3 linked regions of the Homo sapiens genome follow. The protein of the gene in region 1 interacts with the protein of each later gene in a pairwise test. Each region holds a gene or a part of one and is shown on either strand. Other genes may lie near its edges. The genes, in order: CLK3, SAG and OAS2.

Region 1 (9,391 bases):
CCTGAGAACTCCAGGAGGGCAGTGGTCTGCTGGGCTGACATGCACTTGGTCTCTAGCACTCAGCCCAGCCAGCTTGCAACTCCTAGGGCCTGTGCCCTGGCCCAGCTTTAAGAAGGCCAGCCTTTGGAGAGGCATTCGAGTGGTGTCTGGAAAACAAAGACACCCTTGGGGTGACCTGGGCCCTAGTCCCAGCCTGGGCTGCTCTCTGCTCATAGGGACTTTCAGATGGCACTCTTTCCACCTGCAGATCTGCCCACTAGCCCTGTGGACCTGGTCATCAACTGCCTGGATTGCCCTGAGAACGTCTTCCTGCGCGATCAACCCTGGTACAAGGCAGCTGTGGCCTGGGCCAACCAGAACCGGGCACCAGTACTCAGCATAGACCCTCCTGTGCATGAAGTCGAACAGGGCATTGATGCCAAATGGTCACTGGCACTGGGCCTGCCTCTGCCACTGGGGGAGCACGCAGGCCGTATCTATTTGTGCGACATTGGCATTCCCCAGCAGGTCTTCCAGGAGGTGGGCATCAACTACCACTCGCCCTTTGGCTGCAAGTTTGTTATCCCACTGCACTCTGCTTAGAGGGTTCCTGCGCAGGCAGGACTCTGCTGTCCCCTGCTGCTCCTGATAACAAACGCCTTAAGGATATGAAGCTTCATGGACCTTGTTAAAGTTTTTTCTCTTTTGGGTTTGTTTCTTCTGTGAGAGAACAGAACTTACTTAAAACTGACCTGTCACTTGCTCTTAGCCAGGGAAGTCTTTCCCACTGGGTTCCGGGCTGGGTGGCAGGCTGAGCGTGCAGCAACTCCAGGCATCTCTACCCTCAGCCCCCTGCACGGCCAGGTGGGCCTTTGTTTACAGCCGTAGGCAGCTCTCAAGACTGTGTTTCAGGTTTACAGCCACTGGGCCTGGGCACACACATTGAAGAGTGGGCCAGGTCCTGTCTGGGGGCCTGTACCTGCTCTATTTCAGAGCTTGTGGCTTTGTGTCTCCCCTGCTTTCCCCACGCAGACAGCCCTTCCTCTGTAGAACCAGCTGCACGGCAGCTGTCCACCAGAGGGCAGACCTGCACTCTCCATTCATGTCCAGGGCTGTGACAGACCAGGCCTTCCCCTAGCCCCACAAGTTGATTTGGGGGGTTTTGACCCTTACTCCTGAGCTGATCCAAGTTTTATGCTGATTTTTCCAAGGATCTCTCCCTCCTTTTCCCTCCATCACTCAGAGGTAGGGAAGGGGGCGGCATTAGGATGGTGTTACTGTATTGGGATTTTATGTTGTTCTGTCGTCTTCAGCACAGGTAGTATAAGGTTATATTACTGTAGAACCACAGTGCCCATCTTGCCAGCAGTGCCCGCCCCCACCCTCAAAGCTGAGCAGGTTGAGCCTTTGCCTAGTCTGGGGCCAGACCCCTCAGATGGGGATATCCCTGGGGGAGCCTGGTGCTGAACCAGAAGAGGCTTCCTGGTGCTTCTGTCCTAGGCCACCACTCCTCCAGCCCTTTGCCCGCACATACATGCCCCACCTACTCTTTCATCCCCTCTGCCCTTCCCCTGAAACGGTCCTTTGCAGCTGTCATCCCAGAGCAGGCAGATGGGCTCCCGTGCTTGAGCTCCACCCCAGCTCTTACATCATCTGGGCTTTGAACCTTTTACATTTGTCCAGTCTAGATGAGTAGGCTTGGGGCCAGCACCCTGTCTCAAAGATGGCAAAATGAGGCTAGTTCTGGATGAGCTAGCTGGTGTGGGTTCCAACCATAGGAACACACTGATGCTCAAATCCTAAGGTGCCAAGCTCTAGGCCCTGGAGGCTGGTAGAACAGGATCTATGCCTGGAATCCTGGCAGGGATTCCTGTCAAGGACTTGTGTTTAAGCCTGCTTCAGGGCTTCAGGCTGCTTCTGCTCTGTGTCTGCCCAGGCTGGCTGAGCGGGTGGATGGGTGGACAGAAGGGCTCACCAAGGATTGTGGACATAGGGTAGGCCCTGGTACCACGGGTTTCAGGCTGTTATCACTTCCCTTGTAGGAACATAGCCAGAAGCAGATGAGCCAGGGTAGAGGGCTGGCCCCTCCTCTCATCTTCCCTTCAGTCTTAAATTGTCTCCAGCGATGGGAAGAGGCCAGGGACTGTAACCCTTGTGCTGTGTATTCTCTGAGCCTCTGCTCACTCTCAGGGCCAAGCAGCTCCCAAGCCGGGGCCCTCTCTTGGCCAAAATCTGAGGAGCAGTCTAGGTTACAGGCTTTTTGGTAGGTAGGTTCTGGCTGCCTGTTAATGCAGTTAGGCCCCCTGATTAGGTACAGTGAGAAACAAGCTAGAACAACCCTGGCCCAGAAGACTGTCCACTCCAGCAAGATCCAGGGATGATAGCCTTGCAGGGCCACTGGGAGTTTGTGCCCAAGCTTCTCCCTCTTCTCTCCCCAGGGGGCACTGGGACTGGTCCCTGCCCTCATCCTTAGCCTGGGCCTTCCCCAGAGGTATTAAAGAGAAGTATGATTCCTCTGTCTTCAGTTCTTTTCAGGGGCATCCTGCCCATAGTACCCAGTTCCCAAGGGGCCCCCAGTCACGTGGTGAAGCCTAGCACTCATGCAGCTCTTAGGGAACCAAAAACCAGCACTGAAATAAAGCTGAATGACTGACTGAGTCCTGTGCCGTGTGACTTGCTCTGTAGGCTGTCATGAGGTGCTGTCTGTCCCAGCCTAGGAACCCGCCCCACTCGTCTCCTGCCCTCAGCAGGCCATAGTTGTTGGGCACATACAGCCTAAAGTCCTGGCCAGTAATGGGACTGGCAGGCTGTGGAAAACCAGACCCCACCTGGCTAGCCACGGTGGGCTGATTCCCTTAGGTTCTCTGGGGCTGAGAGGTACAGAAGCCAGCAGGGCAGAGGTGCCATCTAGGACTGCTCAGCAGCCTGGGCCCAGAGGATGTCCCCAATTCTGGTCTTACCCCTGCCTAGCTCTTCTGTGCCTGGCCCAGTTCACACTTAGCTCTCCACAAGCTGAACTGCTAAGAAAGACTTTATTAATAAGGTCAGGTAAGGGGAAGGCAAGGAGCCTGGAGATGGACACACTGGTACCAGGGGTTACAAACAGTAAGAAACACTTTATTATAACTTTATAACATATAAATAGCTTGGGTCAAATCTGTGCTTTCTGGCAGCTGGGCACCAAGTCTGCTCCCCTGCAGGCTCCTGCCTTCCTTCACATTGCACTGTTCATTGGGTGGCTCTGGCCTGGGGCCTGGCGGTCGAGGCTGGAGTCAAGGGGCTGGGCGGCCCAGTCCCGCCCTCCATCTCCTCATGCGGTGGCCTGTGCCTGTCATCTGCTTGGGTTGCGGCTGGTGTGGAAGGACCGCTCCTCAGGGGTCAGGCCAGCAAAGAAGGGGTGCAGCAGGGCCTCGGCCAGTGTGATGCGCTGGGCAGGGTCAAATTCTAACATCCTCCTCATCAGGTCAAACAGCTGCACGTGCTCCAGGGAGTCTTGGAGCATGTAACTCTGCTCAGGGACACAAGGTGCCTCAGTGTGACGGCAGGGTCGTGGGAAGCCACAGCAGGTCCCCTTGCCTCTGGGACGCCTTGCTGGACTGGATCGAGGAGGCAGTGATGCCTCCTTGGAGGACTCTACTTCCGCCCTCCTGGACAATGAGCAGCTCCTTTCCTTTCATGCCTGTTTAACGTTTTGCTCGGAACTTGCCAGGCTACTAGGTGTCTTGCTGGGTTGATGCCTCTGCCCCCACATGCAAAGTCCTGACAGGTGGGTAGAGATCACCTCTGCGAAATTCACTTGTCCGAGCACCAAATGCAGTTGACAGAGGCTTCCTGGCCATGTCTAGGTCTTCCCTCCCCCTCACCTCAGTCCTGCCTAGTTCTTCCCAAAATTTCGAGGAGAGAGAGGGACAGGAAGCAGCAGGGCTTCTGACATCTGGCTCTTCTGGTGTTCCCCAATTACATTCATAGCCACCCTATGGGGAAGGGGTAGGGCTAAGGGCCCCTCTGGGGCAGTTTGCAAGAAGCCCCATTGCCAGCACCCAGCAGTCTTGGGTGCCGCCTCCCATAGAGCTGGATCAAGGAGGCAGCCTTTAGCGGCCTGGCCTGTCTCTGCTGTATGTCTGCCCAGTGCCTGGGGTCTCTCCTTGGCATGAGTTCAGCTGGGGGTAGCCAGAAACTGACCTTCAGAGGTTTGCAGTTCTCCTTCACATACCGGCCGTCAGAGCTGTTCTCATCCCAAACTAGGCCCCCTTTGTAGAAATATTTCTGCTTCCTGAAAATTAAGGGGGTGGAGTCAAGTGTGGGAGTAGTAAGGGGACAAGCCTCTGGTGGGAGGTGGGGAAGAGCAGCTCCCAAGACAGCAGCAGAACCAGGGCAACAGGTCTGCAGGGGCACACAGGGAAGGCTTTTAGGAGCCTGCGGAACCATGGACTGTCCAGCAAAGACTCACCACATCCAGTACCCTGCTGACCCACAGCCAAGAAGAGAAAGGCCTCTATACCAACCCTGAGGGGGCTACTGGGGTCCTTACCTGGTACGGTGGATCATGTGTGATGGGATGGGCCCTAGGATCTTCTCCATCATCACCAGGTGCTCTCGGTTTTCGTGGGTCTGTGGAAGATTAGGGACAGTGCAAGGGGGTCAGTACTAGCTCTGGCCCCTTCAAGGAGAAAAAGGAACAAGAAAGATGGGCAAGTGCCCTCACTGCCCCAGGACATGCAAACCTACCAATGAAGCGGCAGCCCCAGCTTCTCCTGCCAGCCTGTGCCTAGGCTCCTCAGCCCTTGTGGGTGGAGGTGGACTGGGCTGTGACTACATTTCTCTCTGGTTAGCTCTTCACTCCCTGCCCAGAACATGCCCTGTCCCAGCCCATCCCGATGCCTTTAGTCATCTGTGCCCCTTATCTAGAAGGTCAGGTCACCTCCTACCCCATCCTCCATCCTCGATGGCCTAGCATAAGACTCCTCTGAGTGTTCCAGCTACCCTGACCTCTGCCTTCCCTTTAGCATCTACATCCTTAAAGGGTCTGAATCTCACATGATGATTAGTGGGAGGAGGAAGACACCTGTCTTCTCATCCATGTGGGGCTTCCCACCCCAGTGGCCTGCAGCCTATCACAGTAGCAGTACTCAGGGTAGGGGACCAATGCAGGGTGGCTGTACCTGGAAGAGTGTGAAGCCCCGGTAGTACTCAAAGAGAATGCAGCCAATGCTCCAGACGTCACAGGGCTGTGCCCAGCCCAGCTCTGCAAGCCAAGATGGGGAGAGGCTGTGAGATCCGGCCTTATGCTTCCAGCCTGGAAGTCACAAGGCAGCCACCACACCGGCTGGCAGGACTCTTGCCCAAATCCCAGTACGAGGCCCTCTCTCAGTAAGGCTGACAGATAAAGCCAGGTCAGTCACCTGTGTCTCATGACACTGGCCCCTTGGTCTGAGAAACTCTGCCTGCCCTGGGTGGCAGAGAATGACAGGCATGCCACTGCCTCTGCTCATACCCTCCCAACAACAGTCCAGTATGACAAGGTCACAGGCCATACAGTCACTCACCAAGGATCACCTCAGGCGGGCGATAGTGACGGGTGGCCACAATGGTGGTGTGGTGCTCATGGTCAAATGTGGCACTGCCAAAGTCAGCCACTCGGATGCTGGTGTTCTTCACTGACTTCTCCTCACAGCTCTGAAAGGCAAGGCAGGCCTGCCAGGTCAGGAGTCTGCACCAGCGGGTAACCCACCCCTGAAACAGGGCCTCACCCTTACCCCCACCAATACCTTGTGCTCATTGTAGAGGGTTTCAAACTCAGAATTCACAAACAGGATGTTCTCTGGTTTCAAGTCTGTATGGGTCAGCTGATTCTCATGCAGAACTAAGGTAGCAGGGAAAGAAGGGGAAGTAGGCACTGAGAAGCTGGCTCTCCTGCCAGCTCTAGGCCAGACCCCTCTTCCAATGCCAGCAACTGCCAGAGGTCCTCACACCCCCACCTCAGCAGGGAGCTGGACTACAGCCTGCCTCTGTGCTGGCCTCCCTCTCAAGGGTTCTCTGTACTTGAGGCCTTGGAGGGTTCTGATACTTTAGCAGGGGGGTAGGAAAGAAATTTGCCATTCGAAAAACCTCCCTCCACCTCTCCTCTGCAGAGACCAGGCCTCCTCACCTGTCTCTCAGCAGAGCTACAGCAACAGCCTCGAGGTGGTTCCCTCTTCCCTGCACCAGCTACATAATTTGCAGGGCCCTTTGCAAAATGAAAATGCAGGTCCCCTGTTCAAGTTACTAAGAATATTAAGGTGGTGGCAAAAGGACATTAAATCAAGCACAGGGTCCTGTGCGACTGAGTGCACAGGTCGCATACCCAGGAAGACAGCCCCGCCTCTCATTGCTAGTCATAAGCAGGCAAGCCTTTCCCCTCCAGCCCCTTCTGACAGTGGCTTCTTGCTAGTAGTCACTTTTCAGCTCAAGGATCCCATCTGGCACTCAAGACCCTCACAACTATGTGGCCCACCACTCCCCAGTGGCAGTCTACTCCACTGGAGCCAATTCTCAGCCCGTTAACAGGCTCCAGGCCTCACCAAGCTGTTCCCCTTGCTTGGAATCCTTGTCCCTGTCCCATCTTGCAGATCCTGTGGGAGGAGGAAGACACCTGTCTTCTCATCCATGTGGGGCTTCCCACCCCAGTGGCCTGCAGCCTATCACAGTAGCAGTGCTCAGGGTAGGGGAGCGATGCGGGGTGACCTTGAGCGATTCTAGCTCAACGCCTACCAACTTCACCAAGGAGCCTTTCTGTACTGCTGCAACCATTGCAAATCCTACTGCGCTGAGCCCTGGCACTGCCAAATAATGCTTTTCCAGGCTGGCAGGGAGATGACAAGTCAGGGTTAGACCGAGGGTCTCCATGTGGGCAGGACCTGTGGTGCTATCTGTCAGGTCAGGCTTCTACCTTTTTATCCCATGCATGAAGCAGGGAGGCAGGGTTGGTGGTTAGGCCAATTCCAGAGCAGTTCGTTTCTGTTTTCTTCCTGAGTGCCTGGGGGTAGAGAGGCTGGTCCAGGAGGTCCCTGGAGGGAGCCCTAGCCTTTCCATCCTCACACTGAGATTCCCACCCAAAGACAGGCCTTTCCGCCAAAGGGGATCTGGTGTCCCTCAGGCCCAGGAGAATGGTTAGTAACGTGCTGGAATGAATGGGGACAACAAGTAACCAGATGACTTGGCTGCAGGCATGTGGCTGCCCATGCTTCTTTTGAGGGTGGACACTTACATCTAAGGGCGTGGCAGAGCTGGTAGGCCATGTGCCGGACATGTGGTAGGGGGTAAGGCTGGAAGTTATTCTCCTTCAGGAACTCAAAGGTGTTCTTGCCCAGGAGCTCAAAGGCGATGCACATGTGACCGTGGAAGTTGAACCAGTCAGACATCAAGACACACAGGCTGGAGGAGGAGGATGGGCAGGGCTCAGGCTGTGTGCTGGGGGCCTGCCTCACCCCCTCTCTCAGATGAAGACAGTTCCCAACTCTCTCCTAGGCCACCGGGTCACACACCAGAATGCAGATACACACAGTGCAAGAGAAATCAGAGCAAGAGCACCTCTCCCCACCAGCCATCACCCAATACCCAGATGAGCTCTGGGCAAGGACTAAGCTTCCTGCGGGGGGTAGGGGAGATGTCCACGGTTCTGGTCCAAGCCCTCCGAGCTTCCCTACTTATGATATGGAAGCAGCCCTGCCTCAGAGTTGCTGAGGGAGAGATGGAAAGTGCTAGTGCACTCCGCAGGACTGGTGCTGCTTTTCTCCACTTGCTCACTCTGCTGAGCTTCGTGAGGGTCTGTGCTGGATTCACCCATCTGCCCAGGCTCAGCACAGTGCGTGGAGGAGAGTGCTCAGTGTGTCTGCCACAGAAAGGCCCTCCTTTGGGTATCTCCTACTATGTGAGAGCCCCAACTTCATGTTTTTATCTTGTTTTATGCCCAGCATAACCCAGTGAGCTCCCCAATTCACAAAACGCAGGGCTGGGAGGCCTTCCTCAGGACACAGAGACAGCTGGGGTGAAGACTGGACTGCAGTCTAAAGGCTTCCAGCAAGACCTTTGCCACACTCCCCTGGTTCTGAGTGTGGGGAGAAGGCACAGTGCGGATGGGTGAAGGCACACTACTAAGCCCCTGGGGGTCCAGCAGCCCCACTGAAGGCTTCCCTCCCACTCCTTGCAGATACTCACAACTTGTTTTCTTTGTCCTTCTCCTTGATTTTTTTGAGCACGTTGATTTCTAGCCGGGCAGCCTCCCGGTACTTGCCCACGTTGCGGATGATCTTCAGGGCAACCTGAGACTTCCCTCTGGTACCCGGGAAGGAAACAGAGGTTCTCATCAGCAGCTGCCCAGTCCTTCCCCAACCCTCCACCCCAACCCAGCAACTCCCAACAAACACCACTCCAGGAGCAGCCGGCACTGAAGAGAGCAGATACTGGATGCCCAGCCTGCCCCATGCAACACCAGACCTTTGCCCACCCAACAGCAAGCTCCCTGAGATCTGTGAGTTAATGCTCTTAGCATCCTTGCCATCCTTAGGCTTTTATGTTCTCAGCCACTGCCAGCTCCCAAAGGAGTGTGGGAGAGTAGAGGCCAATCCTGCTTAACCAGTGCCAGTCCAAGAGCTCACACAGTGACCTAACCTATAGGCCAGGCAGCCCCAACCCTGGCCAGGCTGTCCCACCGAGAACCCTCCTGCGGCGCCTCTTGACCTTCCTGAGCTTGTCTGCAAGTCTGAGCAAACAGGGATGGGGGTTCCAGGATCGAGTAAAGATCTGGCAAGAGGTAGGGGTACCAGCAAGGGTACCTCTCACTGTGAGGCCCAGGGCCACTCCCTTTACCACACCCCTCTCCAGCCGCACCTACCTGCCACAGTGTTTATCAGTGACCACAAAATGCCAGGAACCCTTCTTAAGTGTCCAAAGAAGGTTTTAACAGTCCCTGCTCTGTGCCTCCCACCCCCAACCTCACCCCAGGAGGCCATCTGCAGGGAGCCAGCAGAGAAGGAAACCTGCTGAGGCTCAACTGCCAGGCCCTGTCAGGAAAGGACAGCTAGAATTCAGATGCCCAGTGGGGAACGAGACAGTCCTAGCCTGGAAGGGCGTGTCCTCTGAGGCCTCAGGGAGGCTGACTGTGGTGCCTAAGGCTCACAGGCCCAGGATAAAGGGACCTTCTAGAGAATCCCCTGCTTTTTTCTCCCTACCTATTTTCCCAGATTCTCAGGGCAGGAAGGGACCTCAGGGGAAAGGCCATGCACTCCGGCCTCCTCCTAAAACAGGGTCCCTCCGTGGCATTCCAGTCCTCAGCACAGGGAGCTCATCACTTCCAAGGCAGCCCCTGTCAGAGTTGCACTGCTCTTAGAATAAGACCCTGCCTTTCGCTGAGCTGAATTCTGCCTCTGCATGA
Region 2 (11,525 bases), on another chromosome or scaffold:
GAACTTTTCTGATTTATTCGCCATTAGACACAGTCACGATAGAACTTTAAATTCAACCTGGCTAAGTGTGATAACACCAAAGGTTAGTCAGAAAGTAAAACCTCATTGGAATCTAGCTAGACTCCCTGGCAAGGTGTACTGAGAAATGTTTGAAGCTTACCAAGAAAAATAAAATATTGAAAACACCCCAAAGCATGCTGCAGTAAAATACAAACTAAGCAAAGACTCACCGATGAAACTCGGATGTTGAAGCCGGTACAAGGGCATGGTGAGGACGCACAGGATCTCGTGAGTAGGTTTCATAACTAGGATGTTCTTGACTTGATATTTAGGATTGTCTTACCTTTCTCCAACCCTCTAACACCTGACCAACACCCCAAGGTGGTAGAAGTTGCCAGGGACAGATAACATGGCAGCCAGCGGGAAGACCAGCAAGTCCGAACCGAACCATGTTATCTTCAAGAAGATCTCCCGGGACAAATCGGTGAGTGGTGCACAAGTGAGTGATTTGATAGAAATTATTGTTTAAAAAAAATGGAGCTTTTTCAAGTACAGTGTAGTCATGATCAACATCAAAACTCTTTGAGGGCCAGGGCGCGGTGGCTCATGCCTGTAATCCCAGCACTTTGGGAGGCGGAGGCGGGATAACTTGAGGCCAGGAGTTCGAGACCAGCCTGGCCAACATGGCAAAACCCATCTCTACTAAAAATACAAAAATTAGCTGGGTATGGTGGCAGGCACCTGTAATCCCAGACTTGGGAGGCTGAGGCACAAGAATCACTTGAACCCAGGAGGTACAGGTTGCAGTGAGCCCAGATGGTGCCACTGCACTCTAGCCTGGGTAGCAGAGGGAGACTCTGTCTCAAATAAAAAACAAACAAACACTGTGAGGGCCAGGGAAGCTTTGTGTCTATTTTTGTCTCTGTCTAAGATGGATGATCACTGAGCTATAAATGAGTGAATGAACTGCAGAAATAGAGCTTCTCTTCAGTCTCATCAAGACTTTAGTCCTGTGTCCCTCAGTTTTCTCCGAATCCCTCAATCCCCACACTGTCACCCCCACCTCTGCATCTTTTCCTAGCCAGCCTTGAACCCTTGACTTACTATTTAAACACAGTTTTGTCAGTACCTGTGATGCCCTTGGCCTTTTGTCTATCTATTGTGTCACCTGCCTGGGTAAAACCCAGACAGTGATCAATGTGACTCCTTCTTCTCCGTGCACCTACCCCACCCGGGGGGTCTCAAGCCTCAGCTGGGCCCGCAGGGCCATTGGATAAGGGAAAATGCCCCAGTCTGCCCCCTTTCCACCACTCTCCAGGGGCACGTTAGATGCTCCAGGTGTGCCCATGAACTTCCTCGCATGGGAGAGGGTCCACCGTCCAGCCTCTGTGGATAGCTCCACTCGAAAGCTTCTTGTGGGCCAAAAATCTAGCTCAGCAACATCTAGTGCAAGCCACATATGTAATTTTAAATTTTCTAGTAGCCACATTTAAAAAGTAAGAAGAAACAGGTGAAATTCATTTTGATGTTATATTTTATTTCAGCCCACTATATCCAAAAAACTATCAGTTCAACTTGTAAATAATAATATAAGAATTATTGAAATCTGATGTGTATTTTATGTTTACAGAACATGTCAATTTGGAATGGCCATATTTCAGGTGTCCGGGAGCCACCTTAAGCAGTGGCTACCCTACTGGACAGGGTAGCTCGCCATCATTCTGGCTTTTTTTTTTTTTTTTTTTTTGAGACAGAGTCTCACTCTGTCACCGAGGCTGGAGTGCAGTGGCGTGATCTCAGCTCACTGCAACCTCTGCCTCCCAGGTTCAAGCAATTCTGCCTCGGCCTCCCTAGTAGCTGGGACTACAGGCATGTGCCACCGCGCCCAGCTAATTTTTGTATTTTTAGTAGAGACAGGGTTTCACCATGTTGGCCAAGCTGGTCTCGAACTCCTGACCTCAGGTGATCCGCCCATCTTGGCCTCCCCAAGTGCTGAGATTACAGGTGTGAGCCACCGCACCTGGCCCATTGTGGCTGACTTCTGAACCCGGTATGGGGTCCAAAGAACCTCCCCATCCTTACCGTGCCACCCAGGAGATCCGGCTTTGCCTGTGTGCTTTCTGCCTTCTCCTCTCCTAGTTAAGGAACTCGGTCATTTTAATCAAGTACTCTGATTCTTTCGTTCTCCAAGCCCTTTCCCAAGTTGTATCTTTCCAGTCCATTTTATCTCAACTTCTGGCTGAAGAGGAAACCACTCGTGTTGGTTTCCCACGTTGTTTTCCCCTTGCTCCTAGATTTTCCACCAAGAAATGTAGATGGTTTTTGTAGATAAGTCCTCACAGGTGGGAAAAGAGAATTCAATTCCTGTCTCATGTATTCAGATCATTTTGCCAGCGATGTCTGTGTGGCCCCAGGCATGGTGTGCCAGGGCTCTGAGCCCATTTCTCTGTGATTCTCCCGACGCTGCCCTCTTCTTTGACCTTCATCCTCCAGCAGGTGGCTAAATGACTGCCCCTGCTCCTGGCGTCTCACCCACACTTGACAACATCCAGAAGGAAGAGGCTGTGGTTTCCTGGGGTCTCTTGTAAGGGTCAGGAAATCTTTCCCAAGACTCTTCTCTCATATCTCATTGGCCAAAACTGGGTCACATGTCCACTGTAAACCAATCCCAAGCCAGAAGAATTAGATGATCGTAGTGAATCAGGCCAATCAAGAATCGTACCCTGGAGCCGGCCTCCTCTGAGCATACCGCCTGGTGGAAGATGGTGGTCCCTGAACAATAGTTGGCGGCTTTTATCCAGGAAGAAGGGGTGTGTGGCTGTTGGATGGGCCCCCGAAGGCTGGCTACAGTCTCACATCACCCACTTCTCTACCTGCCCCCATCCTGCCCCTGTCCTTCCTGTTGCAGTGGAAGGGGTAGTTTGCTCCCATCTGAGGTTCACCACCTCTTACACCCTGGGTTTCATGGTTGGCCACCTTCTCAGGGGCCTCAGTCATTGGTCTGGCTGTGTGTGCAGCCTCTCCTCTCTGCTAGTACTTTGTCTGAGCATAAAAATAAGTACCAGCCAGGCGCGGTGGTTTATGCCTGTAATCCCAGCACTTTGGGAGGCCAAGGCAGGTGGATCACCTGAGGTCAGGAGTTCGAGACCAGCCTGGCCAACATGGAGAAACCCTGTCTCTACTAAAAATACAAAAATTAGCCGGGCGTGGTGGTGCATGCCTGTAATCCCAGCTACTCGGGAGGCTGAGGCAGGAGAATCGCTTGAACCTGGGAGGTGGAGTTTGCAGTGAGCCGAGATCGCGCCATTGCACTCCAGCCTGGGCAACAAGAGCGAAACTCTGTCTCAAATAAATAAACAAATAAGTACCGACCTCATGCACCTTAAGAACAACCACCAACTACCCTCGACCCTATATCCTTTCTAGTTCTTCTTCCCTTGCAGCCAAACCTTTTGAAAGAGAAGAAACATGCCCTCTCTTCACCTGCCCTTGTCTCTCCCGTCCACTCTGCAGTCCCCCTCATCAGCTCCACAGTCAGGCTGCCTAACTGGTTCTCCCCTTGCCGATCCATTCTCCAGTTTGCTGCTGGCATGAGCTAAATCTCAGTGCTCCCTTCTATAAAATGGGCTGCATTCCTGTCTCATTGAGTTGCTGTGAGGATTAAGTGAAACCATGTGGTCAAAGTGCTTAGCTTGGCCCCTGATACATGATAAGCACTCGAAATGCTATTTAATTCTTCCAAAAGCTATTTCTCTATTTAGCTTTCCTAAATACTGTTTAATTCAAGTCTTTCATCCTGCTTAAAACGCTTCAACGTCTTCTGAGGTTCTTTAGGGCCACGTCCTATGAGACCATTTCAGCAGCAGCAGCCTGCATCCCCATTCAGTGGCATGGTGAAGCCATTGGCAGTTCCAGAAGCATTCTCGGGGCCCCGGGCTTCGTATACATTTTGCTCAGAGAGCATGCCCTCAACCGTCCCCTGTCCTCTGGCTATGCCATTTGTCCACCAGGTAGAGCCTCCTCTGAAAGCAAGAGCCTTCCCTCTCTCCTTCCCTCCTCAGTGCCCTCCCCTCAGGCTTCCTCCCCACCAGCCTTTGCCCTGGCATTTATTCCAGGGGCACAATTGCCAGTTCACTTGCTGGGCTCCCAACCAAAGAGCAGGGACCTTGGGGACCAAGGGGATGTCTTCTTCGGTTTTTATTTTCAGTAGCCAGCAGCTGCTGGGGCCTCTGTAACCGTGTGTGGGATAGATGAAAGCAGTATTTGCCTAATTGACAGGCGAAGTCTAGCAAAGGAGACAGGCTCCTGCAAGAGCACCCAGAACACAGTGTGCTGCACACTGAGGTGTGGTCGCAGGCCACATGCTCCCGGGGCACCAAAAGCCAGGGGGTGCTGGGCAAAGGGAGAGATGGGGACCGTGAGGTGTCCCCTGAAGCGTGGGTAGGATTTCCCCCAGGTGAAAGTGCAGCAGAAGGGCCTTCCTTACCGTGGAAACAATAGGAACAGAGGCACAAATCTGTGGTGTTTGGGGGAGCTGTGGCAGAGCCGCTGTGGCCAGAGCCCAGGGAAGAGTGGAGCTGTTAGAGAGGATGCTCTCAGGGTGGCCACGCACAAGGCGCTGGGGTTTATTCCACAGAGAAGGAGTGAGCAGCCAGTAGACACTGAGCAGCAGAATAGCGAGGTCATAGTTACCATTCCTGCAAGGCAGCCTCCAAATTGGTTGATTTGGGGAGAATTTTTTTTTTTTTGAGACAGGGTCTTACTCTGGAGACCAGTGAAGATCTCTTTACCCCCTTTGTGGGAGAGCAGGGTTGGAGTACAATGGTACGATCGTAGCTCACTGCAGCCTCAACCTCCTAGGCTCAAGTGATCCTCCTTCCTCAGCTTCCCAAGTAGTTGAGACTACAAGCAGGCACCACCTTGCCCGGGCTAATCTTTTTTTTTTTTTTTTTTTTTTTGAGAGATGGCAGGGGACAGAGGAGGGGGTATCACTTTGTTGCCCTGGCTTGAACTCCTGACTTCAGGTGATCCTTCCCACCTTGGTCTCTCAGTGTTGGGATTACAGGCATGAGCCACTGTACCTGGCCAGAGGAGAGTTTTTAAAAGGGGCTGTTTGCTAGGGTGTAGGCAGGTGTGAAAGAAATCACAAGAAATAGCCAGGTACAGTGGTGGCTCATGCCTGTAATCCCAGCACTCTGGAAGGCCGAGGTGGGTGGATTGCTTGAGCCCAGGAGTTTGAGACCAGCCTGGGCAACATGGCGAGACCCTGTCTCTACAAAAAAATATAAAAAATTAGCTGGGCATGGTGGCGTGCATCTGTAGTCCCAGCTACCTGGGAGGCTGAGGTGAGAGGATCACTTGATCCTGGGAAGCAGGGGTTGCAGTGAGCTGAGATAGTGCCACTGCACTCCAGCCTGGGCGACAGAATGAGACCTTGTCTCAAAAAAAAAAAAAAATTACAAGAAAGAGCTCCATGCGCCACACGGCAGTGACGAGCAGCTGGGTGCTGGCACCTCCCTGGGGTTAAGGGATGAGGGATCGCACAATTCTCAGAACCCCGAGGCCCTCAGGGCTACCTCCCAGGAACTGTGATCCCCACTAGAGGGCTGTGCCAGCCGCAGGCCCAGCCACCATGCAGGCAAGGTGGGGACAAACATCTGGCCCACCTTGCCCAGAAGCCAGAAGACCAGGGAATCTACTAGGGCAACACGCCCTGGTCAGCCCCGCAGGGTGGATCTTGAGGGCAAGGCCAAGACACCCACAGTGTTTAGGAAGCTGGGACTCGCTGCAGCAACCAGCAGGTAGCAGTGTGTGTCCCGGTCAGCCCGCTGCTCACAGGTGCCAGGCTTCCACACCACCCAGGCTAGTGAGGCCTCCCAAACATGCTTAGCGCTGGGAGTATAAGGTTTCCTACGGAATCTTCTCTGTAAACCAGGGTTCTAGTGGTATTTGCTGGAAGTCACTTCAGCATCATTCATGCGAGTAACCTAGAGGGCACAGGGCTACGCTTCGGGACATCTGATATGGGTGAAAGGGGAGCGTATAGGAGAGGACTTAATGCCAACAAAAATGATTTAGGCCGTTCCTGGAATTCAAAATATTCATTCGAAGAAGGGGGCCAGCCAAGGGGGCCACACTCAATGAAAGAGTGTACTCTCATTCATTGGTGCACTTGGCAAACACTGAATCCCTGTGTGTCCTAGACTCTGCAGTAGATGCTTAAAGATGTGCAGAGACTCCAGATTACTACCACCAAGCCACAGTCCTATGGATTAAAGTGCTGAGGGCTGGGAAACCCAACCCTGCTCTCCCATAAGTGGGTAGAGACCTTCGTTGCCAGGGGCAGGACAGGGCCAGGGCCTGTGGGCCCAGATGATGGCCATCCCCTTCCCACCCAGCTCCCTCAGTGCGTGGCTTTAGGTCTACCTGTGCAGTAGTTCACCTGGTGGGATTTCAGGGGCTTCTCCAGAACTCACACCTCTTTGCGTTGTCCAGAAGTTCTTTTTTTTTTTTTTTTTTTTTTTTTTTTTGAGACAGAGTCTTGCTCTGTCACCCAGGCTGGAGTGCAGTGGAACGATCTCTGCTCACTGCAACCTCCACCTCCTAGGCTCAAGCAACTCTCCTGCCTCAATCTCTCGAGTAGCTGGAATTACAGGCGTATACCATCATGCCCAGCTAATTTTTGTGTTTTTAGTAGAGACAGGGTTTCGTCATGTTGGCCAGGCTGGTCTCAAACTCCCGACCTCAGGTGATCCGCCCGCCTCAGCCTCCCAAAGTGCTGGGATTACAGGGGTGAGCCACCACACCCAGCCTGTCCAGAAGTTCTTGTGACAAAGAGGGGCTACCTTTCATTCCACAGCTGGAAATAAAAGATTTAACATGCAAATGGATGGCAAAAGTCTCATTTACATAATTTTCTTTCTTTCTTTTTTTTTTTTTTGAGACGGAGTCTCACTCTGTTGCCCAGGCTGGAGTGCAGTGGCGTGCTCTTGGCTCACTGCAACCTCCGCCTCCCAGGTTTAACTGATTCTCCTGCCTCAGCCTCTTGAGTAGCTGGGACTACAGGCGCGTGCCACCACGCCCAGCTAATTTTTATATTTTTTTTTAGTAGAGACAGGGTTTCACCATATTGGCCAGGCTCAAACTCCTGACCTCGTGATCCGCCCGCCTTGGCCTCCCAAAGTGCTAAGATTACAGGTGTGAGCCACCGCGCCCGGGCTGCTGCTGGTTTTTATCATGGATGCCTTAGCTTAGCATTCTTTGGCCCTTAGACCCACACCTGTTCTTCTTGCAGGTGACCATCTACCTGGGGAACAGAGACTACATAGACCATGTCAGCCAAGTCCAGCCTGTGGGTAAGTTGCTTGGAGAAAACTGTAATGCTGGTTTTCCTTTAAGTCACAGATAACCGCTCACTTTGTGTTTTTAAAAACTGGCCTTGCTAATAATCTAAATAAAGACATGCAAATTAAAACATCAGTGAGGCGCCACTGGCTGATTGGAAACAATTTTATTTATTTTTATTTTTATTTTTATTTTTATTTTTTTGAGATGGAGTTTCATTCTTGTTGGCCGGGCTGGAGTGCAGTGGCATGATCTTGGCTCACTGCAACCTCTGCCTCCTGGGTTCAAGTGATTCTTCTGCCTCAGCCTCCCAAATAGCTGGGATTACAGGAATGCATCACCACGCCCAGCTAATTTTGTATTTTTAGTAGAGATGGGGTTTCACCATGTTGGCCAGGCTGGTCTCAAACTCCTGACCTCAGGTGATCCGCCCGCCTCGGCCTCCCAAAGTGCTGGGATTACAGGCATGAGCCACTGTGTCCGGCTGGAAAGAATTTTAAAGAGTGTGAAGAGACAAAGGACTCATGTCTGGAATGTATGAAGAACGCTCAGAACTCAGCAGTACAAAAAGCAAGATCCTATGAGAAAATGGGGGAAAGACAGGAAGATACATTTCATCAAAGAAGATACATGAAGACAAGCAAGCACATGAAAACATCTTTGGTATCATTAGCCACTAGGGAAATACAGATTAAAGCTACAGTGAGAGCATATTATACACCTACCAAAATGGCTAAAATATTTTAGGTTGGTGCAAAAGTAATTGCAGTTTTTTGCCATTACTTTCAATGTAGTGGCGAGATCTTGGCTCACTGCAACCTCCACCTCCTGGGCCCAAGCGATCCTCCGACCTCAGCCTCCCAAGTAGCTGAGACTACAGGCATGTGCCACCACGCCTGGCTAATTTTTGTATTTTTTGCAGAGATGGAGTTTTGCCATGTTACCCAGGCTGGTCTTGAACTCCTGAGCTCAAGTGATCTGCCTGCCTTAGCCTCCCAAAGTGCTGAGATTACAGGCGTGAGCCACTGCACCCAGCAGCAGCTTCTTAAAACATGAAACACATACTTACCATATGACCCAACAGTTGCATCCCGGGCACTTATCTCAGAGAAATGAAAACTTGTGTCCTCACAAAAACCTATACATGATTGTTCACAGCAGCTTTATTTGTGGTAGCTCCAAACCGGAAAGAACCAAAATGTTTCTCAGAATGTCCCACGTCAGCTTCCTAGTTTTGATATTGTACTGTAATTATGGCAGATGGAACCATTGGGAGAAACTGGATGAAGGATACTAGGGACGTCTCTGTACTATCTTTGCAACTTCCTGTGAATCTATAATCATTTCAACACAAAACGTCTTTTAAAGAGTGTAGAAAAACTGGCAGTTTCAGACACTGGATATGCAAATGTGCCTTGGCAAAACACTTTCTGGAAGGTTATTTGGCAGCATGTTATCAAAAGCCAAATCCAATTCTATAATTTATTTTTAAAAAGTCATGGAGAGATATAAAGACATATGTATAAGGATGTTCATCACAATATTAATTACAATGGGAAAAATTGGAAACAACCTAGATGCCCTAACAATAGGAAGTGATTAAATAATTTATGGTACATCCATTCAATGGAGTAATACATAGCTATTAAAATGATTAGCACGTTTTCTCTATATGTGTGTGTGTGTATATATATACGTGTGTGTATAGATGTATGTATGTGAGTATGAATAGATGTTTGCAATGTATAATTGAGTGAGGAAAGCAGTTAGCTGAACAGTATGTACAATAGGATCTTTTTCTTTACTTAGTAAAAGCATTCGTATAATTAAGTTATATATGTCTGGAAAAAAATTTTTTTTGTCGGGGGTGTGGGACAGTGTCTCTATCACCCAGGCTGGAGTGCAGTGGCACAGTCACAGCTCACTGCAGCCTCAACCTCCCAGGTTTAGGAATTCCCCCTACCTCAGCCTCTCACATAGCTGGGACCACAGGCATGCACCACCGCACCTGGCCCATGCCCTGCTAACTTTTTTTCTTTTTTCTTTTTTGTATGTTTTGAGAAAAGGTCTGGCTCTATTACCCAGGCTGGAGTGCAGTGGCATGATCATGGCTCACTGCAGCCTTGACTTCCCGGGCTCAAGGGATCCTCCTGCCTCAGCCTCCTGAGTAGTTGGGACTACAGGCATGTACCACCACACCCAGCTAATTTTTTTTTTTTGTTTTTTTATAGAGACAGGCTCTCATTTTGTTACCCAGGCTGCTGGCTAATTTTTTTTAAAAACTTTTTGTAGAGACAAGGATCTCACTATGTTGCTCAGGCTGCTCTCGAACTCCTAGGCTCGAGCAGTCCTCCTGCCTTGGCCTCCCAAAGTACTGGGATTACAGGCATGGGCCACCACACCTGACCTGGAAAAATAAAATAAAAATCTGCACCAAGATCTTCACAATAGGTATTTTCAGGCAGTAGGAATTTGGATGACTTTTTTCCCTTTGCCTGACTTTTCTTTCTTTCTTATAATGAACATGGATTACATGTGTAATTAAAAACATGCGCAGTTTTTAAAGTAGGTGTCTGGTTTCTTTCATCTTCTCCACCCTCACTGCTCTCTCCCTCTTTTGCCTTAGATGGTGTCGTGTTGGTTGATCCTGATCTTGTGAAGGGAAAGAAAGGTGAGATGAAGCCCCTTGTCTCAGGCTGGTTTCTGGGCGGAGTGGACTGCTCTCTGGGCGGCTCTGGGAAGGGGCATTTACATGGAAGGAGAGACAGGAAGGCAGAGGCAGCGCTCTTGCACATGGAACCAGTGCCAGGCCCACTGACCCACACTCCTGTACCTAATTCACGTGACATAGGTCCTGTTGACACCAGAGCTCACTCGCTCAGCAAAGTCATTGTCCAGGGTGGCAGATAAGTAGATGGTAGACGGAGCCCAGGTCTGTGGCCCCCATTCCTGTTTGCTCGCCCCTGTTTCATGTACTTCTGTGCTAGGGGCAAACTCAGGAGGGTGCCTGGGGTGCCTAGGACTCAGGAGGACACAAGACCTTGAATGAATGAGGGGCGAGTGAGTGGGCAGTGTTTCTTCTGAGTCAGTGGCGAGGGGCAGTTACCGTTGGGGCTGACAGGCAAAATTCTCAACCAACACCAAAAAGGGGGAAATGATGCCTGCTGGGGGCAGGGGGAGTAAGACCCAGAATTTATTATGGTGCTTACTTCGATGGTTCTGAACCAGTGTCACGGCGCCCTTGAAGATTTCTGGCAGTTTTGATGTGTGTGGTAAGTAATTTGTTACTAATAACAGTTGCATAAACCAAATTAGAACAGATTCCAGCTATCCTTGTGATAATGTCACTGACTCAGTTCCATTCTAAATATGCCTTTTTGAGTGTTGCTACTGGCAACATCAAGGAATTGTTCAGAACCCTGGATGTGCCACTGGAATACGTCAGCTATGGGGCCATCAGCATTGAGGGGGCATGGCTGAAATGGGGCCCCAAACGGCCCCCTCTGTCCTCTCCACCTTCCTCCTGGGTGCCCTGCTCCTCTCTGGACCAGGAGGCATCTGGTTTGAGCCCCGAAAGCCCAAGTCCTTGACCAGAGAAGGGCGCCTGTTCTCAGGGAAAGCCACTGCACAGGACAGCTGTCAAACCACGTGGTCTCTGGGCACCTTCTTAGTCCTGAGCTTGAATGAGGGGCGAGTGAGTGGCCACTGTTTCTTCTGAGTCAGCAGCGAAGGGCAGTTACCTTTGGGGCTTGCAGGCAAAATTCTCAACCAACAGCTACCACGCACTTGGCGGGGCCGCCTCTCGTGCTTTATATTTGAGAAATATGTGCTTCGTGTCTTTTTTAGAAGGTGTAGTGAACTTCATACAATTCTTCTGGTCTACTGGGCGCACACTTCAGGTCTGTTCAACAAGTAGAATTTTCAGAAGTGGGGGTTTAGAGAATGCTCAGTATGTTTCAGAGCAGCGTGAAAAGGAGGCTGGAACTTGAGCCTTCTCAAGTTGGATTTCACCTCCCCATGTGGCCTGTGAGCCTTCAGGCTCCTCACTCAGCCCACGATTGACCCTGGCCCACATCTGCTTTGCTGCCCAGCGCTGTTTCCCTCTGCATCTTACCTTCTTCCTTCATTCGTCCAGACATCCTGCCCTCTAGAACCTGAGCAGCCAGCACTGTCTCAAAGCC
Region 3 (11,525 bases), on another chromosome or scaffold:
TTGTTAGCATAAACCCAGGCATGGGTGAAAAGGGCTTGTTATGAATACAAAAGACACTCCTATCAGGAAACTCTAGAATTTTTGAAGCTGTGTGCTAGGAACTAGGCACAAAATCCAGATACATTCTTTATTGTATCACAACTGGTATATGCAACAGTGATAAAAGTTTAAGTGAGGGTATGTGAGGTTAAAGCACCTAGACCTTCAAGTATCTTTAAGGCTAAAGCCCAAGGAAAAAGTCTTTTGATTTGGCAAGAGGATACTCCTGGGTGGGGGGGAGAAAGGCAGGCTCAGAAGGAAAAGACAACAGCCTCATATAAATATGACAACAGTTATAATCTGAGCCTTTGGAGAGCTTGAAGTTCTAATGAAAGGGTTGGCTGGCTGCTGGCATAGAGGATGTCTGTGTCAGCAGGGGCAGAAAGGGTTTTGTATACAGAGGAAACAGACAGGACGTGGATGAGTTGGAAGCACCGAGAGCAAGATCACAGAGTTATGAGAACCAAGGGGAAAGTAAAGAGCTTTGCTTTGAAGACACAGAGGATTCCTTTTTTAGACTGGAAGGAAAAAGGAGGAGCTAATTGGAAAAATACAAGAAAAAAAATACAAGTTGACAGAAATAAGATGCACATAAAGTGGATGACAGCAACTATTTTTAAAGGCAGGCTGCCTGCAGAGAGGGAGTTCAGCAAGGCAAGACTTTATGAAAGGGTTTGCAGTCTTGATTGATTTCAAGAAGTCCAAGAAGCAAGGGAAGGAGGAATAGGGACCATCAAGGGAAGAATGGATGTGAGTGACTCTTTCTCACGGTGAGCCGAGTCTTTAAAAGCGATTGCCAGATGATCTCTAGAAGTTTCTTTTAGAATTATTATTCAGGATTCTATGGCTTCTGGATGAGAACATCTCATTGACAATAGGATGGATCCTAGCTCCACAACTTCCTGGTGTCTGCATTGTCTAAAAAGAAAAACATACGTGGGAGAGCAATGTCTCCTAATAGTTACAATCATTGCTTAAAAGAGTTAGGGGAAAAAAGGGGGGACCTGTATCTGGGAAGGTAACTATTGCCAGAGACAATTTTTTGGTATTTATTTATAATGCATATCTTAATAATTAGAGCTAACCCCACGGTTGGCTTGGCCACCTCTTCCCTACATTCCCCCCAGGGTTGGGGTGTAGGGTTCCTCTAGTGCAAGGGTTCTCACCTAGGGCAGAAGACACATGATAAAGTCTCAAGACACTTTTAATTGTCACAACTGGGTGGCATCTACTGGGTACAGGCCAGAGATGCTGCTCAACATCCTACAATGCACAAGAGAGCCTCCAAACAAAGAACTGTCTAGCCCCAAATGTGAGTAAGTATCAAAGTTGAGAAATCCTGCTTTAAAGAAAGAACCTGGTGGAGAGAACCAAGTATATCTGGAGGGAGGATATCCTGGTGGAATATATCAGGTATATCTTGGTAGGTAGGGAGGGCTTTGGAGAGGTGTGGCAGACATCCTTGGGTGGCCAGTGCAACCCACGTCCACAGTCATCTTTGTAGCCACCTTCAAGTTACAGGTAGCCACATGACATTTCTGAGCAATGAAATGGAAGAAAATTTGCGGATGAAACTTCTAATAAAATCACTGTGTTCTTGACCTTTGGGTATCTTTTCCTTCTTCCTGCTTGGATTGCAAACCTGCCATCTGGAGGCACCGTGGCCGCTTTCAGGGCCATAAGTACTCAAATTAACAGCTAAAGAGGGTGGAGCCAAAAGCCAAAGGCAGAAAGATCTGTGAACCCAGGGGAACGTTTGACAATGTCTGAAGACTTTTGGTTGTCACTGGGAGAGGAGGGCTAGTGGCATCTACTGGGTAGAGACTAGGGATGCTGCGCAGCACCCTACAGTGCATGAATCTGGGGTTACCTGCCTGAGGATCACTTGTAGTGGGGGCTTAGGGGGCTGACCAGCTGTTTAAGCTCCTGTGAGCTGGGTTTCCTTTATTTGTGTCTGAGTTAATTTCAGGTTGCTACAGTAGGAGAAGTTCTTTGATTCAAGCCTGTTACAGGGCTATTTCCAGACAACGCCTCCTTTAGATGACTTTTACCGGCACTTTCCAAGGTGGTATTGGGTTTCCAGTCCCATCCTTGAAGCAGGGAGAGGATAACCATTCCTTTGCTTCTTTTGCCAGAAGATGCCAACACCAACGGTCCCCTCCACCCACGTCACCTGTGGGTTCGGCTGGGTCCAAGATCACAGGCCTGAATGAGAGGTTAGAAGGCATTAGGAGATTCCAAATCCCAGTGACTTCAGAATTTGGGGTCCATCCTATAATACTTTCAGCAATAAGACAATGTGTTCTTACAGCTTAGATGTCAGCAACTCAAATTTACTAGTAGGGTTCAAAGTAACTTTCTAGAGGCCGCGTGCAGTGGCTCATGCCTGTAATCCCAGCACTTTGGGAGGCTGAAGTGGGAGGATCACTTGAGGGCCAGGAGTTCGAGAACATCCTGGCCAACATGCAGAAACCCCATCTCTACTAAAAATACAAAAATTAGCTGGGCGTGGTGGTGCGCACCTGTAGTCCCAGCTACTTCGGAGGCTGAGGCAGGAGAACCAGCTTGAACCCGGGAGGCAGAGGTTGCAGTGAGCTGAGATTGTGCCACTGCACTCCAGCCTGGGTGACAGAGTGAGGCTCTGTCTCAAAAACAAAAACAAAAGCCAAAACCAAAGCAACTTCCTAGAATTAAATTGTATTTGCCAAAAGCGTTTTGAAAGCTGTTAATTGCTATACTCATGAAGGCATAATGAAGGCATAGTCTAAATATCTCCTCCTTGCTATGTCAGCTAAAATATGATACATAATTTAATCAAATACAATGTTGCCAAGAACCCAGGGTAGGCAACCCACCGGGGGTCTCCTTCTCTCTTACTTCTCCTCTATTCTTTTTCAACGCTCCTTTATTTTCTCTCTTTCCTTTCCTCTGGTTTCCATTGTTTTTGTCCCTTGCTGGTGGCCCTAAGCAGATGGATATGATTTCTTACTATTCTTGAAGGTCTGAAAGAGTAGATAAACCCTAACCCAATAAAAACCCTGCAGGATAAATCGGCCCGTGAATGATAGCGTTAATTCTTAGGGACACACTTCCAACTCTAACACCTCTTAGATGAAAGCAGCTCAGGGACGTGGTATCTTGAACCTTCCTTCTCTATTTTTTCTGAACAGCATTTTCTCCTGCCCCTGCTAGGTTTTATCCCTGGAGACTGTGACAGGTTCTGTTGGCTAGCACTTTCCCCCGTCATGCAAGGAATGAATCGTGACCCCAGCAGAGGAAAATCCAGGTTGCTGAGACAGTGTTCAAGGGAATCAGGTTAAGAAAAGTACGGGGCTAGGGTGAAGGCACCTGGTTTTCTGCAACTGGCTCAGTAGAAACTTCCTCACGGTCTCATCTTCAAAGTTGTAATTGACCTTCCAGAAGATGCAGAGCTGCTGATATTGTGTGACCAGCTCCAGGACTGTCCGGAAACCTTCTGCAGTGTCAAAATCCGGCACTCCACTCCCCTGCTCCCAGGCATAGATGGTGAGCAGCTCCAAGGCATACTTTGGGGGCAAAGACCCCTTTGGCTTCAGTTTCCTTTCACACTAGGTAAGAGTGGGAACATCAGACGAACTGGTTAGCCTAGGAGCTCAGTGAGAGCCGCACAGGGACCACAGCAAGGCAACTGAGTCACAGTGTCGTGCTGGTGTGCTCACACTCTGCAGCTTGGATGTCTAAATTGTACAGCCTACAGGAGTCCACCTGGCAGCAGCACATTTGAGTTTCTTTGTTGTGCTTTTGACCATATATGCCTTCCTAGGACAATAACATAGCTACAGTTTACTAGAAACCCACTGCATGCCAGCTATGGGCCCAGGCATTTACCCACATCATTCCTAATCTTCCCCACAATGCAGGCAGCATGACCTGCATTTTAGATGAAGACTTTGAAGCTGCGGGAAGTGGAGTGACTCACTCAAGGTCACGCCACAGCCCCAAGTCTTCTGACACGCCATGCCAGCTCTCTGATTTTCTGGGATGAAAACTACAGAGTTTGGTCTTGGTTTCACATTTCAGGGAGCTGGACACAGAAAGGAGGCATCTCAGGAAGAGCTGATATCGTGCTTGATGTTTACTGTCATGAGGATGTTCAGAAGCTACTTTGTGTGCAAGTGAGGGGAAACTGGGTAGAGACTAGGGATGCTGCTCAGCACCCTACAGTGCATGAATCTGGGGTTACCTGCCTGAGGATCACTTGTAGTAGGGGCTCAGGGGCTGACCAGTTGTTCAAGCTCCTGTGAGCTGGGTGTATAGAAAATGCAGCCCCGGTTCCACCTACAGCTTCAACCTGCCTTCTGAGAGAGAGCATGTGCGCCGGGAAGCAGAAAAGTCCTATTGGCAATGTGTGGGCATGTGAATCCCAGCTTCCACCCACCCTCTGTAGGCAAGGTCACTTGGATTCCTGCAGAATTCTTTGGCCAGTGTGAGGGCAAAGTAAACCACATGTAGCAGCTTTGATGGGCAGAAGCCATCAACGCCTGACCCAAATGAATAGGGTTAGTGATGGGAACGTCGTAAAGATATCCAGTGGGCAGATTCTCCAAAGTGGCTCAGCCCTCAGCATGGGAGATTGTGGGCAACAGGGCTTAATGTTCATGGCTTACTGGTAAAAATAATAACCCCATGGTCAGAACAAAGACTGTCCTTACCTCTTTGTACCAGTGCTTCACCAGGCGAATTAAATCCTTTAGTTTGGTGGGCCGGGAGCGAATGAAGTTTCGCTGCAGGACTGTGAAACAGGTAGAAAACTCTCCTCCCGGGAGGTCCGAGGATTTATACAGATCAATGAGCCCTGCATAAACCTCGGGGCTGGGTGTGGAGCCAGAACTCAGCTGACCTGGCATGAGGGAGAGATTGACATCCTGCTTTAATACACATAGTAAGTAACAGATTCCAAAACATTTTTGACAAATATGATTTAATTCTTGGAAATTACTGTGAATAGTATTAGCATATTTAAAAGACTGATGTCTAAGACACAGGGAGCATCTCCAGAATAATGAGATATGTAAAAATTATGTGGTCTACACAGGTGCAGCTGGTATTATTAAAGTATTATCTAGACTTAAACTAACAGAGCAGCCACCAGCAATGTGGCCATTTGCACTCACATTCATTAAAGGGAATGAAAATTAAAAATTTAGTTCCTCAGTTGCTGTAGCCACATGTCAAGCTCTCAGTAGTTGTAGAACCCAGACATAGAACATTTTCATGATCACAGAAAGATCTCTGGGACGACACTGATCTGGACTTTGTGAACTACCGCCCCCTGGGCTAAATCTGGTGCGCTGCTTCTTGTTTTTTTTTTTTTTTTTTTTTTTTTTTTTTTTTGTTGTTGTTGTTGTTTTTTGCTTTTTTGAGACAGAGTTTTGCTCTGTTGCCCCAGACTGGAGTGCAGTGGCATGATCACAGCTCACTGCAGCCTCCATCTCCTGGGCTCAAGCAATCCTCCCACCTCAGCCTCCTGGGTATCTGGGACTACAGGCGTGTGCCACCATGCCTGGCTAACTTTGTTTATTATTTATTTATTTATTTATTTATTTATTTTTGGGATGAAGTCTCACTATGTTGCCCAGGCTGGTCTCGAACTCCTGGATCAAGCAATCTTCCCGCCTCGGCCTCCCAAGATACTGGGATTACAGGTGTGAGCCTCTATGCCCAGCCCAACTGCTTGTTTTGTTTGTGTGTTTGTTTGTTTGTTTTCAGACGGAGTCTCACTCTGTTACCCAGGCTGGAGTGCAGTGGCACGATCTCGCACTGCAACCTCCACCTCCCGGGTTCAAGCAATTCTCCTGCCTCAGTCTCCCTGATTACTGGGATTATAGGCACACAGCCCCATGCTTGGAAAAGAGAAATGGGACCAAAATTGTCTACAAGTGTGAAGTATTACTGCCATGACTAATGCCACTTGCTGGGGCCAGGGACCCATGAGTGGCACATGTTTTCAGAGCCCGTAATCAAGTCACGTGGCTCTCCCTCCACCTTCTGTCCACCATCACTTCCAAGCTAAGGTCTGGGGAGCCTTACCCAGTGCATTAAAGGCAGGAAGCACATCAAAGCTGACACTTTCGTTGAGGACTTTGGATTTCAGAGAGAAGCTCAGCACCCTGGGAGCCTTCCACTTGGGAGGCTCAAAGCTGACTTCAAGCTCCTCCTCCTTCTCCCTCCAAAAGGCTTTCAGCTGTTCATGGATTTCCTTGACGATTTTGTGCCGCTCGTTTTTTTGGGAGGTGTAGCTTTTAAGTGAGTTATGGAACACGACGAGATCGGCATCAGAGCCAGTCTTCAGAGCTGTGCCTTTGGCGGTTGATCCTCCCTAAGGAAGAAAGGAAGGTTGAGATCCAGAATTTCCTTAACCGAGGAGTCCCGTGCCCCCGTGGGCTGGCACCAGTTGGGCTAACTGACACTGTTTCCAAGGCCAAGTTCTGCGTTAGGGTTCAGTGAGGGCTGAGTCCAAAGCAAAGGGTTTTCTTTTACAAACTAATAGATAATGCAGTTATTAAACAATACAGTTCCCAAGGCAATTATTCTCCTGCCTTTTATACATGAACAACTGATGGGCTAGTTACAAGTTACCTGCTTCTCAGGTCAATTTCCTAAAGATTTTCCTAAAGACATATTTAGCTTTATTTGGATTCCTGTAACCAAATAAATCGAGCGGAATGCAATAATTATGGTGAAGGTGCTCATCTGTTCTTTGATGTGTGTTTTCTCCTGCAGGTCTGGCGATCATTGGGTGAATATCCATAATTGAGGTACAGGGTTGGTAAACTTTCTGCAAAAGGGCCAGATAGTAGGTATTTTAGGCTTTGTGGGCTATTTATGTCTCTGCCATTAAGGCTTCTCCCTTCCCTCCCTCCTCCTCTTCCTCCTCTTTCTCCTCCATTTAGTTTCTGTAGAGAAAAATGTTTTATTTTATCCATGGGTATTAAATGCCTGATTACATGGGTTAAGGAGGTGAGGAAAGGGTATGTTCTATTTCCTGTATGCAGATCCTCAATTCATCCCTGTTCCAGCCCCCTTCATTCATGCAGGCCACCTTTGTCTTTAAGAGGTGGGCTTCGGCGGCTCCTCTCAGACTGTAGCCCCTTCCTTACAATCTCTAGGTGTCACCTTCCTCTGGCCTAAGCAGAGAAACCTTCAACCAACTTCAGGAAGATGGAAAGCAATGTCTTATCTGCCGATGGCTCTCTTTTCTTCTTTGATGTGTCATATACCTTTTATTTTTCACTGACTATCATGTGAATGGGGTTTCAGGAAGGAGAGGAGAAAGCACATGCTTTGACAATTCTAACACTGATCAGAAACTCAGTCCTGTTTTCACTCCAGTGACCTTCAATGAGACAGTTCACTCATTGCCCTGGGGCTATTGGTGCCATTTCCCAGGCCCCTCTTCTCTAGTTGCACAGATTTGTTCTGGCATCAACGCAGAAATTTACGCGTACATAATAACATTTTCCTCCTTCCCTTCTTGTGACCACGGGGACACGTTTATCTGGTCGTGTGACCAGTAAACAGAGAGAAACATGTCAGCCCCGTGGCCTTTGAGCCACGGACAAGAATGACAAAAGCCTCTAAATCTCTAGCTCAGCTGATGGGGCAAGCCGGGCTCCAGTCACTCAAAGGAGAAGGAGATTCTAAGCTCCTTAGAATCTGCAGTGGGTTCAATGGTGGACCCCTAAAAATACATGCTCTGGGGGCCTGTGGATGTGCCCTTATTTGGAAAAAGGGTCTTCGCAGATGTAACTGAGTTAAGGACCTGGAGATGAGATCATTCTGGATCAGGCTGGGCCCTAAATCCTATGACAAGTGTTCTTAGAAAAGAAGAGAAGGGGGAGGACACAGAAGAAAAGGTGATGACAGAGGCAGAGACGGGAGTGATGTGTCTCCAGGCCCAAGAGCCCCAAGGACGGCCAACAGCTCCAAGAAAAACAATACAGAATCAAAGTTGTGTTGTTAATGACCTAGGCAGTCTATCCACAACCCCCCTGAAAACTAGTGTCCTAGTTCCCTTAACTCCTGGCTTCCCTTCCTCAAGTTTCTGAAGGTAGATGGATCCTGGAGAGCTACAATGCCCACTTACCTCCCTTCCAGGAATGCCCAATATTACATCATTCCAACAAGACATGAGAAAGGCCAGTGCTCACCCGGACAATCTGGATCTTGGCTGTTGATTGTCGGAAGCAGTTTTCTTTAAGGAATGTACGGATGATGTTAACAGCACTGTCAATCTGCTCTAGGAAGCATTTGTTGGGCTGGAGAAACTCCTTGATGAACTTATCCAGAAGGTGGCCTGGGGTCGTGAAGAGTGGTGCAGGCTGGGGAAGGAAGGAAGACCCCAAGTGTGAGTGGCACCTGTAAGCCCACCCAAGGCTTCTTTTCCTGCCTGTACTGGGCCCCCTACCCTGCCTCTCCCAACTGCCCTCCTGCTCGTGGGCTGGCATCTTTTCCGTCTTTTGTCATTGCACAAATACATCCCAAGAACACACCTGAGAGTTTGGAGTGGCACACAAGACCCCCCACAGACACAAAAACTGTCCTAGTTGCCCCTCCTTCCCCCTAGGAGAGATCTGGATCCTTGTCCAGACAGATCTGTCGTGTTCCTAACTCCAAACTCCTTTTCCATGCCCAGTTGGAGCATCACTTCCTAATGACCTGTGGCTTTTTGCTTTACCTACACCTCTGGTCCTTCCCTGTCTTCCCATTTGCTGTAGGTATTGGAGATTGCTGATGACCACATCCATTCCTTTCTTAAGGTTGTATCAGCCTGCGTTAAACACGCCATGTGCGGGTGTGTTGGTTTCCAAAGGCTGCCATAACAAGTGACCACAACTAGGTGGCTTAAAACAACAGAAGTTTATTCTCTCCCAGTTCTGGAGGCCAACAGTTCAAAGTCCAGGTTTTGGCACAGCTGTGCTCCCTCTGAAGCACACGTGGTTAAGTCTCTAGAGATGGGAGGATTATTCTGCATTACCTGGTTTGGCCTGATGTTATCACAGGGGTCTTTTTCCTCTTAATTTTAATTTTTAATTGAATTAATTAATACATTTTTCTCCACTTTTACTTTAGGTTCAAGGAGGTACATGTGTGGGGTTTTACATGGGTAAATTGCATGTCGCTGAGGCTTGGTGTATGAATGATCCCATCACCTAGGTAGTGAGCATAGAACCCAACAGGTAGCCTTCCAACCCATGATTCTAACCCATGTTTTTTCAGAAATAGTGTCTCGCTCTGTCACCCAAGCTGGGGGGCAGTGGTGCCATTATAGCTCACTGCAGTCTCCAATTCCTGGGCTCAAGGGATCCTCCAGCCTCAGTCTCCTGAGTAGCTGGGACTACAGGTTTGTGCCACCACGCCTAGCTTTTTTTTTTTTTTTTTTTTTTTTTGTAGAGATGGGAGTCTCACTAGGTTCCCCAGGCTGGTCTCAAACTCTTGGTCTTAAGCAATCCTCCCACCTCAGCCTCTCAAAGTGCTGTAATTACAGGCGTGAGCCACTGTGCTTATAAGGACAAGGGTACTTATAAGATGGAGGCAGGAGGGTTAGAGTTGGAGTGTGGTGGTGTTGGAGTTAGAGTTAGGTGGTGTGATGTTGGAAGTAGAGAGAGAGGCTGGAAGATGCTATGCTATTGGCTTTGAAGATGGAGGAAGGGGCCATGAGCCAAGAAATTTGGACAACCTCAAGGAGCTTGAAAAGGTGAGGAAGCATATATATGTATATATATATATGTGTATATATATATGTGTATAGATGTGTATATATATGTGTATATATGTGTATATATGTATATATGTGTATATATGTATATATGTGTATATATATGTGCATATATGTGTATATATGTATATATGTGTATATATATGTGTATATGTGTGTGTGTATATATATGTATATATATATTTTTTGGTTGGTGCAAAAGTAATTTTGAGACAGGGTCTTGTTCTGTCACCCAGGCTGAATGCAGTGGCACAATCATGGCTCACTGCAACCTTGATCTCCCTTGCTCAAGTGATCGTCCTGCCTCAGCCTCCCAACTAGCTGGGACTACAGCTAATTTATTTATTTATTTTTGTAGAGACGGGGTATTGTTATGTTGCTCAGGCTGGTCTCAAACTCCTGTTCTCAAGTGATCCTCCCGCCTCAGCCTCCCAAAGTGTTGGGATTACAGGTGTGAGCCACTGTGCCTGGCTCAAATTCATGTGTTTTAAGCCACTAAGTTTAGGGCATTTTTTTAAAACAGCAGTAAGAGGCAAGTAATTACTGTTCTATACAAATATTGTACTTTTGCTGGCAACACAGACAAGATGGGCTAGCTCACCTGGAGGTGGGGAAGGGCACTCAGCTTGAAAGTTGAAGGCCAACCTTGGTTGTTCTCAGATGTTGTAAGTTGGCCTTATAGTTGCTGAGGACGGTGCCTATTGAAGGAATATTCATTGCCAACACTGCCCCTTCCACAGGGCAGAATATTTGTGGTGTGTGAGTGCATATGTGTGCGTGGTATGAGTGCATGTGTGTGCATGTGTGTGAGTGCATGTGTGTGCATGGTGTGCATGCATGTGTGTGCATGAGTGCATGTGTGCATGTGTGTGAGTGCATGTGTGTGCATGGTGTGAGTACGTGTGTGCATGTGTGTGAGTGCATGTATGCATGTGTGTATGCATGTATGTGTGTGCGTGTGTGCGTGTGTGCATGGTGTGAGTACATGTGTGTGCATGTGTGAGTGTGTGTGTGCATGTTTGTGTATGCATGTACGTGTGTGTGTGTGTGTGTATGTGTGCATGAGCCCCCAATGTTTGGACCGCCTTATGCAGTGGTTCCTGGGCCTAAATTTTCTTCAACAACTGCAGAGACAGGGATGGTCTCACAGTTCTCAAAATAGAAGTTGATGGGATAGCAGAACAAAAACAGCCACAGTGAGTATCAAAAGATGGTTTAGGAGATGTTTGGAACTAAATGCCACATGTGCTTCTGGGTTGGAAAAGAATGTCCTATAAAGGCCCTTCTTGGAATGACTGTCGAAATCATCCCAATGGGCTGTATTGGGACAATAATATATGACTCCTAGTCTCCTGAATTTGATCATGGCATGGAGGTTATTGAAGAGAATATTCTTGTTCTCAGAGATCCCTATGAAAGCATTTAAGGGTAAAGAGATGTCTGGCAGTCTACTCTCAAAGGGCTCAGTATAAACAACAACTATAACAATGGGCCAGGTGAGGTGGCTCACGCTTGTAATCCCAGAGCTTTGGGAGGCCAGGTGGGAGGATCACTTGAGCCCAGGAGTTTGAGACCAGCCTGGCCAATGTAGCGAGTTATAGCCCCATCTCTTAAAAAAAGATTAAAAACAACTGTAACAACAACAATAATAACGTGTGCACACACAAACTGTAACATAGCAAATGTTGCACATGGGTACTGCATCTATGTGAGGGGATCATAGGAGTTT

The links.
Region 2: the proteins of CLK3 (region 1) and SAG interact in binary tests that used the Homo sapiens proteins (3 or more experiments, as listed by UniProt).
Region 3: the proteins of CLK3 (region 1) and OAS2 interact in binary tests that used the Homo sapiens proteins (3 or more experiments, as listed by UniProt).

What each region holds. Positions count from the first base shown.
Region 1 is NC_000015.10:74,623,803-74,633,193, reverse strand, and holds the end of CLK3 (dual specificity protein kinase CLK3), read right to left. Parts: intron 8,293-9,391; coding exon 8,176-8,292; intron 7,393-8,175; coding exon 7,226-7,392; intron 5,843-7,225; coding exon 5,748-5,842; intron 5,656-5,747; coding exon 5,526-5,655; intron 5,225-5,525; coding exon 5,142-5,224; intron 4,591-5,141; coding exon 4,511-4,590; intron 4,253-4,510; coding exon 4,162-4,252; intron 3,488-4,161; coding exon 3,311-3,487; 3' UTR 2,993-3,310; downstream 1-2,992. Other genes in the region: EDC3 (enhancer of mRNA-decapping protein 3), read left to right, coding at 248-582. UniProt on the Homo sapiens protein: Dual specificity kinase acting on both serine/threonine and tyrosine-containing substrates. Phosphorylates serine- and arginine-rich (SR) proteins of the spliceosomal complex.
Region 2 is NC_000002.12:233,308,781-233,320,305, forward strand, and holds part of SAG (S-arrestin), read left to right. Parts: intron 1-381; 5' UTR 382-409; coding exon 410-484; intron 485-7,294; coding exon 7,295-7,355; intron 7,356-9,970; coding exon 9,971-10,015; intron 10,016-10,757; exon of another isoform or gene 10,758-11,168; coding exon of another isoform or gene 11,169-11,243; intron 11,244-11,525. UniProt on the Homo sapiens protein: Binds to photoactivated, phosphorylated RHO and terminates RHO signaling via G-proteins by competing with G-proteins for the same binding site on RHO. May play a role in preventing light-dependent degeneration of retinal photoreceptor cells.
Region 3 is NC_000012.12:112,999,806-113,011,330, reverse strand, and holds part of OAS2 (2'-5'-oligoadenylate synthase 2), read right to left. Parts: intron 8,400-11,525; coding exon 8,229-8,399; intron 6,398-8,228; coding exon 6,109-6,397; intron 4,919-6,108; coding exon 4,731-4,918; intron 3,627-4,730; coding exon 3,388-3,626; intron 2,245-3,387; coding exon 2,076-2,244; 3' UTR 958-2,075; coding exon of another isoform or gene 847-957; 3' UTR 1-846.